Linked DNA regions of Homo sapiens: region 1 is linked to region 2. The links come from fine-mapping of genetic effects on gene expression. A gene starts in region 2. The other region holds a variant in brackets. All regions are shown on one strand. Distances are between the middles of the regions.

The links.
Region 1: its variant is fine-mapped to the expression of MYCBP in whole blood (INTERVAL, PIP 0.96).

What each region holds. Positions count from the first base shown.
Region 1 is chr1:38,909,779-38,915,156 of GRCh38, forward strand. RHBDL2 (rhomboid like 2) reads right to left here. Exons shown (of 8, transcript NM_017821.5): 4 at 1,544-1,656. It overlaps LOC105378662 (a long non-coding RNA gene), which reads left to right and starts at 3,762. Exons shown (of 2, transcript XR_001737994.2): 1 at 3,762-3,850. The variant C/CGT (reference allele first, on the strand shown) is at 3,185.
Region 2 is chr1:38,870,606-38,875,983 of GRCh38, forward strand. It overlaps MYCBP (MYC binding protein), which reads right to left and starts at 2,743. Exons shown (of 5, transcript NM_012333.5): 1 at 2,686-2,743; 2 at 2,413-2,485. The coding sequence starts at 2,700. It overlaps GJA9 (gap junction protein alpha 9), which reads right to left. Exons shown (of 2, transcript NM_030772.5): 2 at 3,464-5,378. The coding sequence ends at 3,946. RRAGC-DT (RRAGC divergent transcript) reads left to right here. Exons shown (of 2, transcript NR_186075.1): 2 at 5,336-5,378. All of the region lies in intron 1 of GJA9-MYCBP (GJA9-MYCBP readthrough), which reads right to left. RefSeq lists an enhancer at 1,777-2,299.

The sequences.
Region 1 (5,378 bases), 39 kb after region 2:
AAAAAATAAAATATGCCACTATCATATGTTCCAACAACTGTGCCTTTGGACATTTATCCTAGAAAACTGAAAACTCTGTTCACAAAACCCCATACTTATATTCATAAAAACATATACACAAGTGTTTGGAGTAGTGTTATTCCTAATAGCCAAAAACTGAAACAACTCAGATAACCTTCAATGAGTGAATGGTTAAACAAGCAGTGCTATATCCATTTTATGGAATGAATACTGGGCAATAAAAAGGAATAAACTATTGACACATGCAACAACCTAGATGAATCCCCGGAGAATTATGCTGAGTGAAGAAAATCAATCCCACAAGGGTATATACCGGATTATTCCATTTATATAATATTCTTCAAATGACAAAATTATAGAAATGGAGAACAGGTTAGTGGTTGCCAGAGGTAAAGGAGGGTGGGACAGAAGATGGTATAGCTATAAAAAGGCATCATAAGGGATCCATATGGTTTGAAAATGTTTTGTACCCTGACTATATCAACGTGGATATCCTAGTTGTGATACAGTACTAATGTTTTGCAAGATGTCACCATTGGGGATCGCTGGTTTAAAGGGTACATAAGACCTCTAGGCATTATTTCTAACAACTGCATGTAAATCTACAATTATCGCAAAATTAAAAGTTTAATTTTTTAAAAAAATGTTTCCAATAAATAAACAAATGGATGGATGGGAGTTCTAATATTTTCTTCCCATGCCATAATGGATCATCTTAGGCACACCCAGATTTAGGGATCACTGACGTATGCTACTTTTACCTACCCAGTCTTAGAGCCCCTTTGGTTATTCTCTACATTCTCTTAAAGTTGTCTTTCTTAAATGCAAATCTGATCATGTTACTTCTCAAAATCAGTAGTCTGACATATAAGGGCCTCCATGATCTGGCTTTAGACCTTTACTCAAATACGTACCTGTACACCAAACTACTTGCAGTTTTCTTTATTCCTTTTCTTTTTTTTTTTTTTTTTTTTGTTTGTTTGTTTGTTTGAGACAGAGTCTCGCTCTGTTGCCCAGGCTAGAGTGTGGAGTGCAGTGGCACAATCTTGGCTCACTGCAATCTCCGCCCCCTAGGTTCAAGTGATTCTGGTGCCTCAGCCCCCTGAGTAGCTGGGATTATAGGGGTGAGCCACCACCCCCAGCTAATTTTTGTATTTTTGGTGGAGAGAGGGTTTCACCATATTGGCCAGGCTGGTCTCGAACTCCTGGCCTCGTGTGATCTACCCACATCAGCCTCCCAAAGTGCTGGGATTACAGGCAGGAGCGCCAGGCATACTTGCAATTTCAATTATGCAAAACCCTGTCTTGAGTGTGAGATACCTGAGGACAGGCACAATGACTTGTCTTTGCTTGCTGATAGTATCTCTAATTCAATGATCTCTAAGGCTTAATGTGTTCCCGAGCACATATTAGGAGTGCAGTAAACCTTGACTTAAAGAAGCCTACTATAAGTGTGTATTTCATTTGCTTTTAATCCTAAGAGCCCAGAGGTATTGATTCTGTGTTACCTCAGAACACTGACCTGCAATCACTCCTGCCAGGTACACCAGCCCCACACGGAGGCCTTTGTGGACCATTTCCAAGGGAATACCCAAAACAAGCTGCATACAAAGATTCCCCAAGATGTGCTGAACTCTGCAAAGACAAACAATAGTTGTCAAATATTATGACTAAACCAAGCAGTTATTTCCCTGGGAGATGAACAGACTTTCATGTGTTTTCTCTAGTTAAGGATTTGCTTAACTAGAATTCCATTTTCTAATTTTTCTTCGCAGACAACTCTTTTTTTCTTTTTCTTTTTTCTGTGTGTGTGTGTGTGTGTGTGTGTGTGTGTGTGTGTGTGTGTGCGCGCGCGCGCGCGTGTGTGACTTGCTGTGTCTCCCAGCCAGGGGTGCAGTGGTGCAATCTCTGCTCACCAGAACCTCTGCCTCAAGGGTTCAAGTAATTCTCATGCCTCAGCCTCCCAAGTAGCTGGGACTACAGGCATGTGCCACCACTCCTGGCTAATTTTTTTTTCTTTTTTTTTGGACGAAGTCTCCCTCTGTCGCCCAGGCTGGAGTGCAATGGCATGATCTTGGCTCACTGCAATCTCTGCCTCCTGGGTTCAAGCGATTCTCCCGCTTCAGCCTCCCTAGTAGCTGAGATTACAGGTGCCTGCAACCACGCCCAGCTAATTTTTTTTTTTTTGGTAGACGGAGTTTTGCTCTTGTTGCCCAGGCTGCAGTACAATGGCATGATCTCGGCTCACTGCAACCTCCACCTTCTGAGTTCAAGCGATTCTCCTGCCTCAGCCTGCTGAGTAGCTGTGATTACAAGCATGCGCCACCATGCCCAGCTAATTTTGTATTTTTAGTAGAGACAGGGTTTCTTCATGTTGGTCAGGCTGGCCTCAAACTCCTGACCTCAGGTGATCTACCTGCCTCAGCCTCCCAAAGACTGGGATTACAGTAGTGAGCCACCATGCCCGGCCTAATTTTTGTATTTTTAGTAGAGATGGGGTTTCACCATGTTGGTCAGGCTGGTCTCGAACTCCTGACCTCATTGATCCACCCGCCTTGGCCTCCCAAAGTGCTGGGATTACACGCATGAGCCACCGCGCCTGGCCCGTTTTTTTTTTTTCTTGAGACAGGGTTTCACTCCCTTCACCCAAGCTAGAGTGCAGTGTCTCGATTTCGACTCACTACATTTCCATCTCCTGGGCCTGAGGATTCCTTAATCGTCCCACCTCAGCCTCCCCAGCAGCTGGGACTACAGGCACACACCCTGTGCAGATCTAATTTTTTATTTTATTTTATTTTTTTGTAGAGATGGGGTTTTCACCGTGTCACCCAGGCTGGTCTCAAACTCCTGGGTTCAAGCAATCCATCCACCTCAGCCCCTCAAAGGGCTGGGATTACAGGTGTGAGCCACTGCTCCTGGCCACAGATTCTTTTTAAGTGCCTTACTATGTGTTAGGCACAGTGAAAATTATAGCCATTATCTCATTTAATCACAACAACTTTATGAGGTAGGTACTATTCATATTACTCCATTTTACACCTGAGGAAACTAAAGGACAAGGAAGCTAAGTAACTACCATATACCATATATATATATATATATATATATATATGTGTGTGTGTGTGTGTGTGTGTGTGTGTGTGTGTGTGTATTTACATATACA[C/CGT]GTGTGTGTGTGTGTGTGTGTATTTTTTTTTTTTTCTTGAGACAGAGTCTCACTCTGTCACCCAGGCTGGAGTGCGGTGGCGCGATCTCGGCTCACTGCAACCTCCACCTCCTGGGTTCAAACGATTCTCCTGCCTCAGCTTCCCAAGTAGCTGCGGTTACAGGCACCTGCCACCACGCCCAGCTAATTTTTGTATTTTTACTAGAGACGGGGTTTCACCATGTTGGCCAGGCTGGTCTCAAACTCCTGACCTCAGGTGACCACCTCAGCTTCCCAAACTGCTGGGATTACAAGGCATGAGCCACTGCACCCAGCCTACTATATACTATAATACTGTACTGCCTTACATTGCTATTTAACTGACATGTTCCTTCTTATCATCTTAAAGTCCTTGTGTGCGGGAGCCATGTTTGCTCAGAACATACTTGTTAAATGGAAACTGAGCAGTTGGTGATTTTGCCCCTGATTTGTCAAGCCTCTGAGCCATGTGTCCTGATGCCTATTTAGCCACTAAGCAAAAGTGTCATCCTTTCTATTTTATTTTTTATTTATTTTTAACTTTTTTTTTTTTTTGTAGAGCACTCTCTATGTTGCCCAGGCTGGTCTCAGACTCCTGGACTCAAAGCGATCCTCCTTCGTCAGCCTCCCAAGTAGCTGGGACTGCAGGTACACATCACCACACCCCAGCTACAAGTCGTTTTCAAGTCCAGAGTTGGGTAGACTGCACAGAAAAGGTTGGCCCCACCTGAGACCACAAGAGTCCACCGGATAGGTGGGGCCAACAGGAAGCTGCTCGCTGTCTGCAGTGGGCATGGTGGATCATGGATGCTGAGTGAGTTCATGAAAGGCCATCGGCATTTAAGAAACTATAGGCGGCCGGGCACAGTGGCTCACGCCTGTAATCCCAGCACTTTGGGAGGCCAAGGCAGGCGGATCACAAGGTCAGGAGATTGAGACCATCCTGGCCAACATGGTGAAACCCCGTCTCTACTAAAAATACAAAAATTAGCTGGGCGTGGTGGCACGTGCCTGTAATCCCAGCTACTCGGGAAGCTGAGGCAGGAGAATGGCTTAAACCAGGGAGCCAGAGGTTGCAGTGAGCCGAGATCGCACCACCGCACTCCAGCCTGGCGATAGAGCTAGACTCTATCTCAAAAAAAAAAAAGAAAGAAAGAAACTGTAGGCAAAACTAAATGGCGGGCACTGCATCTCCTATTACCAGTATTATTCCAGATGGATAACAGTATCCCACACTCATCAATATGTTCATGAACTAAATTTATTTTATTTTATTTTTGAGACAGAGTTTCACTCTGTCACCTACTCTAGAATGCAGTGGCGCGATCTCGGCACACTGCAACCTCCGCCTCCTGGGTTCAAGCAATTTTATTGTCTCAGCCTCCTGAGTAGCTGAGATTACAAGCGCATGCCACCACGCCCAGCTAGTTTTTGTATTTTTAGTAGAGACGGGGTTTTACCATATTGGTCAGGCTGGTCTTGAACTCCTGACCTCAGGTGATCTATCCACCTCAGCCTCCCAAAGTGCTGGGATTACAGGTGTGAGGCACTGTGCCCGGCCATGAACTAAATTTTGTTTGATGTATGATGGTGGAGGAGGAGACTGGTTATTCAGCACCACCATTTTCATAGCCTAAAGAGTATATTTAACAACATTAGACAACTAGGGGAACATGCTTTTGGTTTTGCAATGATTTGATCTCTTCTCATTAATATTCCTAAATACTAATATTGGGCAGTTATAATGCAATATAAAGTATACTGGCCTTAAGGGCACAGTGGCTCACACCTGTAATCCCAGCACTTTGGGAGGCCAAGGCGGATGGATCACCTGAGGTCAGAGTTCAAGACTAGCCTAGCCAACATGGTGAAACCCCGTCTCTACTAAAAGTATAAAAATTAGCCCGGCCTGGTGGCAGGTGCCTGTAATCCCAGCTACTCAGGAGGCTGAGGCAGGAGAATCGCTCCAACCCAGGAGGCGGAGGTTGCAGTGAGCCGAGATCACACCACTGCACTCTAGCCTGGTGACAAGAGCGAGACTCCATCTCAAAAAAAAAAAAAAGTAAGAAAGGATGCTGGCCTTAGAGTTAGCACTAGTGGGCTGAGGTCCTAGCTCTGCAACTTAGCTGTGTGACTTGGAACAAGTGACTACATCTTTTTTTTTTTTTTGAGATGG
Region 2 (5,378 bases):
ACAAGGTGAAACCCCGTCTCTACTAAAAATACAAAAAATTAGCCGGGCGCGGTGGCGGGCGCCTGTAGTCCCAGCTACTCGGGAGGCTGAGGCAGGAGAATGGCGTGAACCCGGGAAGCGGAGCTTGCAGTGAGCCGAGATTGCGCCACTGCAGTCCGCAGTCCGGCCTGGGCGACAGAGCGAGACTCCGTCTCAAAAAAAAAAAAAAAAAAAAAAAAAAAAACAAATAGAATTGTGTAAAGCACCTATGTTTGGAGCTGAAAATCAAATTTTTAATAAATCACATCAATACTGTGTTGGCTGATGTTATTTAGGAGCCTGGAAATCTAAGGAGATTGAGAGGTTAAATTCTAGTGGAGGGCGGTGGCTCACACCTGTAATCCCAGCACTCTGCGGGGCTGAGGTGAGCGGATCACCTGAGGTAAGGAGTTCAAGACCAGCCTGGCCCATGTGGTGAAACCGCCTCTCTACTAAAAATACAAAAAATTAGCTAAGCATGGTGGCACATGCCTGTAATCCCAGCTACTTGGAAGGCTGAGGCAACACAATCGCTTGAACCCGGAGGTGGAGGTTGCAGTGAGCCGAGATCATGCCGCTGCACTCCAGCCTGGGCAACATCTTCTGTGTAGTCAGTTACCGCCTACAACTGTCATTTTTCTGCCTTTTACCATTCAGTCTTTCACTTGCTCCATCCAACCACTCTGGCCTCCTTAGACTTCCTGAAACTCTGTTTCTTTCAGGTTTCTGGTCAAAAATTACTTCTTAAGAAAGGCCTTCCCCCCATCACCCTATATAAAATGACACACACATCCCACCTGTCACTTTTTTTTTTTTTTTTTTTTGGAGACAGAGTGTCACTGTTGCCCAGTGGCACAATCACAACTCACTGCAGCCTTGACCTCCTGGGCTCAGGTGATTCTCTCACCTCAGCCTCCACAGTAGCTAGATTACAGGCACACACCATGCCCAGCAATTTTTTTTTTTTTTTAAGAGATGGGAGTTTTGCCATGTTGCCCAGGCTGGTCTTGAGCTCCTGGCCTCTAGCAGTCCACCCACCTCAGCCTCCCAAAGTGCTGAGATTACAGGCATGAGCCACGTGCCTGGCCTCACCTGTTACTCTTTATCCCTAACTTTGCTGTATTTTTATCTGTACCACTTACCACTAGCTGACACTACATATTTATTTATGTATTTCTCTCCCTCAACTAGGATATAAGCTTATGAGAGCCGAGACTTTTATCCTCCCCTGCTTATCTCCAGTGTGCAGAACAGACACCTGAGTAAAATTATTAAATGAAAGAAATGAACGTAAGGAGTTTTTAGACGGAATGACATTCAAAGCATCTGTGACACTTTCAGAGACAACATAGCACAGTACTTTCACAGAGTAGTCCCTTAAGACTTGCTGAAGTTTATTTGCAAAGAGGTAAACTATTATCTGAACCCCAAATAGGTAGCAATTCAAAATTACTAGCCTTCTTTCTTCTAAGACCCAGGAGTTATGCTCCTAGAATTTTCCTCTAAACTTTGCTTCTGTCCAAAGGGCAGTTACCAATTTATTTCCCACTTCCCAAACTTCCTAGTTTCATATGACCCAAGTCCTCATCCCTGCGAACAATTCCATTCTACACCCTTGAATATCCCAGTGAGTTGAGTGACACATAGCAGGCATTCAAATTAGTGCTAAGCCAATAAAGTAAACTGTACCCTACCCCTTGAAATCCTCCTGTTTCCAACACTTTACTCATCTACTTAACTTAGATCTTGAAGCCACGAATGAAGAGATACAGCGTTAACAGTAAGCTTTCATTTTAAAAAGTGAAAACAATGTAACCACCTTGATATGCCCTCGAGCTCTTTAAGCTGTAATTCTACTTTATGAAATATACACAAAATAAGAATTGACACAGACAGACTAAGGAATGGGGGCTGAAAAGCCACAGCCAAATTCGCTATGAATCTCCTACTTTGGGGATTAGGCTCACTCAGCTACTTCATAGCCCACTTGGAAATTCGGTCATTTTTCCAGTTGCTCTTTGTTGGAGGGAAACTTTCTTAACAAGATTCTGAGGACTCCATAAAAACCGTAAGGTGGGAGGAATTGGGATCTGAAGGTCCTTGGCAAACATGTCCACTGCGGCTGCTGGAGGCAAAGCAACGGAAGTTGAAGAGACTTTGCAACAGCTGCAAGAGTTTCACTCCCGGTGCGGAGAAGGGTAGCGGAGCTAGGCTACCCCACCCGGGCGGCGTCCAGCAGCCAGGTCCCTGCTGAACCCCGAGGCCCACCTCGCTGGACCCCGGACGGGCCCCATCTGTTTCCCCTCCTTCCCCACGCTACGGCCCGCTGGGGAACGGGGCAGCGCCGGGGAGCACGACGAGGGCACGAGGTACCCTCTCCTAGCCCAGGCTCACCCTTGGTCAGCGTGTCCAGCACCCCCGACTTCTCCAAGTACCTCCGGAACTGCTCACGCTTCGAGTCGGCGGCCTGAAGAGACACCGGGGGTCAGTGGCCAGAGCCCGGGAGCCGAGCAGGAAGAAGGCGCTGGGAGTCCGGCAACCCCGCCTCCGCCTCACTACCTCGGGGCCCTCCCGCCCAAACCTGCGCGCGCGACCCCACTCCCACCCAGAGCCGACCAGCGGCTTGCTACCGCCCGCATGCCCCCAGCCACGCCGCGCCCCCCTCACTTTGTAATGGGCCATAGTGACAGCGGCAGCGGCGTAGCTGGCGCCGGAGACCGCGACTGGCGGGTTGGGAGCAGCACTGCTCATGCGCGGAAGGGGGCGCGCGCCTGCGCACTTGCAAACCACCGGCCGGGATCGCCGAGGTGTGGCCTGTTTTCATGGCGACCAGGACGCTCTGCATCCCCAGTAGCAGGCTGAGCCGAGGGAGGCTGCGTATGCCCGCCCCTCTGGCTGTCGGAGCCGCACCTCTTCCTCTTCCGGCCCCCGTAGCAATTAGGTTTCTTTGCAGGAGGTGAGATTTTGGTACCTCTGTCCTGGCGTCCGGAGGCAGGGCCCGGGAGCATTGAGACTATTGCGAGAGAAAGGACCGCCGCACGGTGGTAGCGAGCGCATCTTTTTCATCTGGGACCTCGGAAACTGTGGTGACCCATAGGTGCTGGGCTTCTTGGCTCTCGTCCTGAGAAAGTGCTCACAGTGCTTTGCAGTAGCCGAGGAGGGTGTTTAGAATCATATATTTTGGCTTCAGCTTTTATCTTTGGAGTCTCCTTGAGTCGTGGCTGACTTGATGTGGGCCTCTGGAGGATGAGCAGTAACGAGCTTGCAGTAGCTTTTGAGCCAGGCACTGTAGAAAACACGGGTATTTTAAATTTTAATCCTTACAACACCCCTGTAGGGTGGGTATTGTTAATTAAGTGGAGTGGTTAGATGTCCAGTGAGTAGAGTCGAGTCCAATCCGGGCAATGAATCACGATGCTATGAACTGGTGAAGGAAAGCCACGGATCTTCTTAAGATTTTATTTACTAGGTAGCAACATGTGATTATACTCAAGACACATCAGGATGCCAGTCTAGAAGGAAACTTACGTGATTGTGTTCCAGGGGCAAACAGAATTAACCCAGTGTCCAAGGTGGAATTGTATAGATCAAGAACCATTTCCTAAGGCTGTGGTCTCTTCAAAGAGAAAACCTGATCAAACCATTTAGCCTCAATTCTGAACATGTGATTTTCCCAAAATCAGTTACATTCGAAAGGATATCATTTAAAAAAAAAAAAATCCTGATTTGACAACTCTATGTCTTTGAATTTAGAAGTGTTGCTTCACAATCTCGAATTAGAGCTGTTTTTCTCTTGCTTAAATGAGTTTGCAGTTGTCTGTCTTAACAGCTGGTCTTTAGAGCTGCCCCTATCTATTTTTTCTGTGCCCCACGACCACTAGGCTACTTCTCTGATAATATATATAATGTCTAAAAGCCAACCGCTGTTTAGATCTGAAGATCTGTGGGAACCCGCCTACCAATGAGATTGTTCGTTAGGGACACTACGTGATTTGGAGGACAAACAGGATTATTACAGGTTCTGACCAACCCTGGCTCAAAGGACAGCCCTCCCAAAGAATCAGCAGTGTTTGGAATGTCAAGTGATTGAGAATCTCCTTGTGAAGGAGGAAGGGTTCTGACTGTGCCCTTTCTGAACTGGCCCTTGAGGTTACCTTTAGGAGGTGACCCCCGGTTTTCATGTTCTGTAGAGGAACCCCATGTAGCTCTAAGCCACCGCGGTTTCCAATCGCAGTTAGCTGGCAAGGAGAAAACTGTTTGGGGTGACTGCCTCATGTTGTTCTCTCCATCTATAGCAACACCTGGAATAGAACGGTGACCTCTAGAGTAGTAGTTCCTTTTGCTGTCTTTGCCTTCAGTTTCTCTTTTTTCCATTAACTGGTTACCATTAAGTTCTTTTCCAAATATTTTATGAGTGTCTTTGTTATTGTTTGAACTGATGTGTTGAAAATGACTACAACTAGTACTAAGTGTGGAAATCTCATTAGAAAGTACAGTTTCCTGTTCATCCAAAATGCATTTCTCATCATTTACACTATGATTGTCAGGATTTGGCTGGAATACAGAAGATGAATTTAAACTAGGGTACACTGCAGTGTGTGTTTGCTTTTCCACTAACAGATTATAATCAGGGGCAGAAGGGAGTCGCTTCAGTGAATTTGCAGATGTGCTCTGGTATTTGGCTACATTTTGTTTTGCCTTGTTTGCATGGAATTCATTATGTTCCTTCTTCAACTTGTATTTTCCCCAAAGCCCTCTTTTAATCTTTTTAAAACCTAGGTGGAAAATTTCAAGAATGTTTAAGAAAAGTGAAATAGTGGCTATAGATTGCATAAATAATAGGAATATTGTCTTTTCTGTTGGTCTTGAGACAAAACAGTCGATTATATTTGGACACGGGTGGCCATGGCACTTAAATAGCGGCTCTAAGTGAAATCCATATAAAAGGTACTGTCCAATCATGAATCCAACTTCAACCACAGAGCGAGTGAAAATGTGTATCACATAAGTGCAAAGCAAGGTTCCTCTGAGTGGAGCTTTATTTAGTTTCCTTTTCTCCAGCTGACAAAGCTCTTGCTCCAATCTCCTCCGATCCCTAGGCATTTCAAACTCTACCTCCTCCAGTTCTACTCTTAACTGAGCTTTCATCCTTTGCCTCTCTTCCTCAAGAACTCTCAGTCGGTACAATGCATGGCCCATGTAGACCAGGGATGGTGAAGACACAAATATCACCTGCAGAACCCAGTATCTAATGAGGGAGATAGGAAAGGCCTGGTCGTAGCATACATTTCTGCAGCCTGGTTGTTCTGTATTGCAGATGAAGCCAGACTGCTCATCATTCCAGACATCTTCAGCTGCTA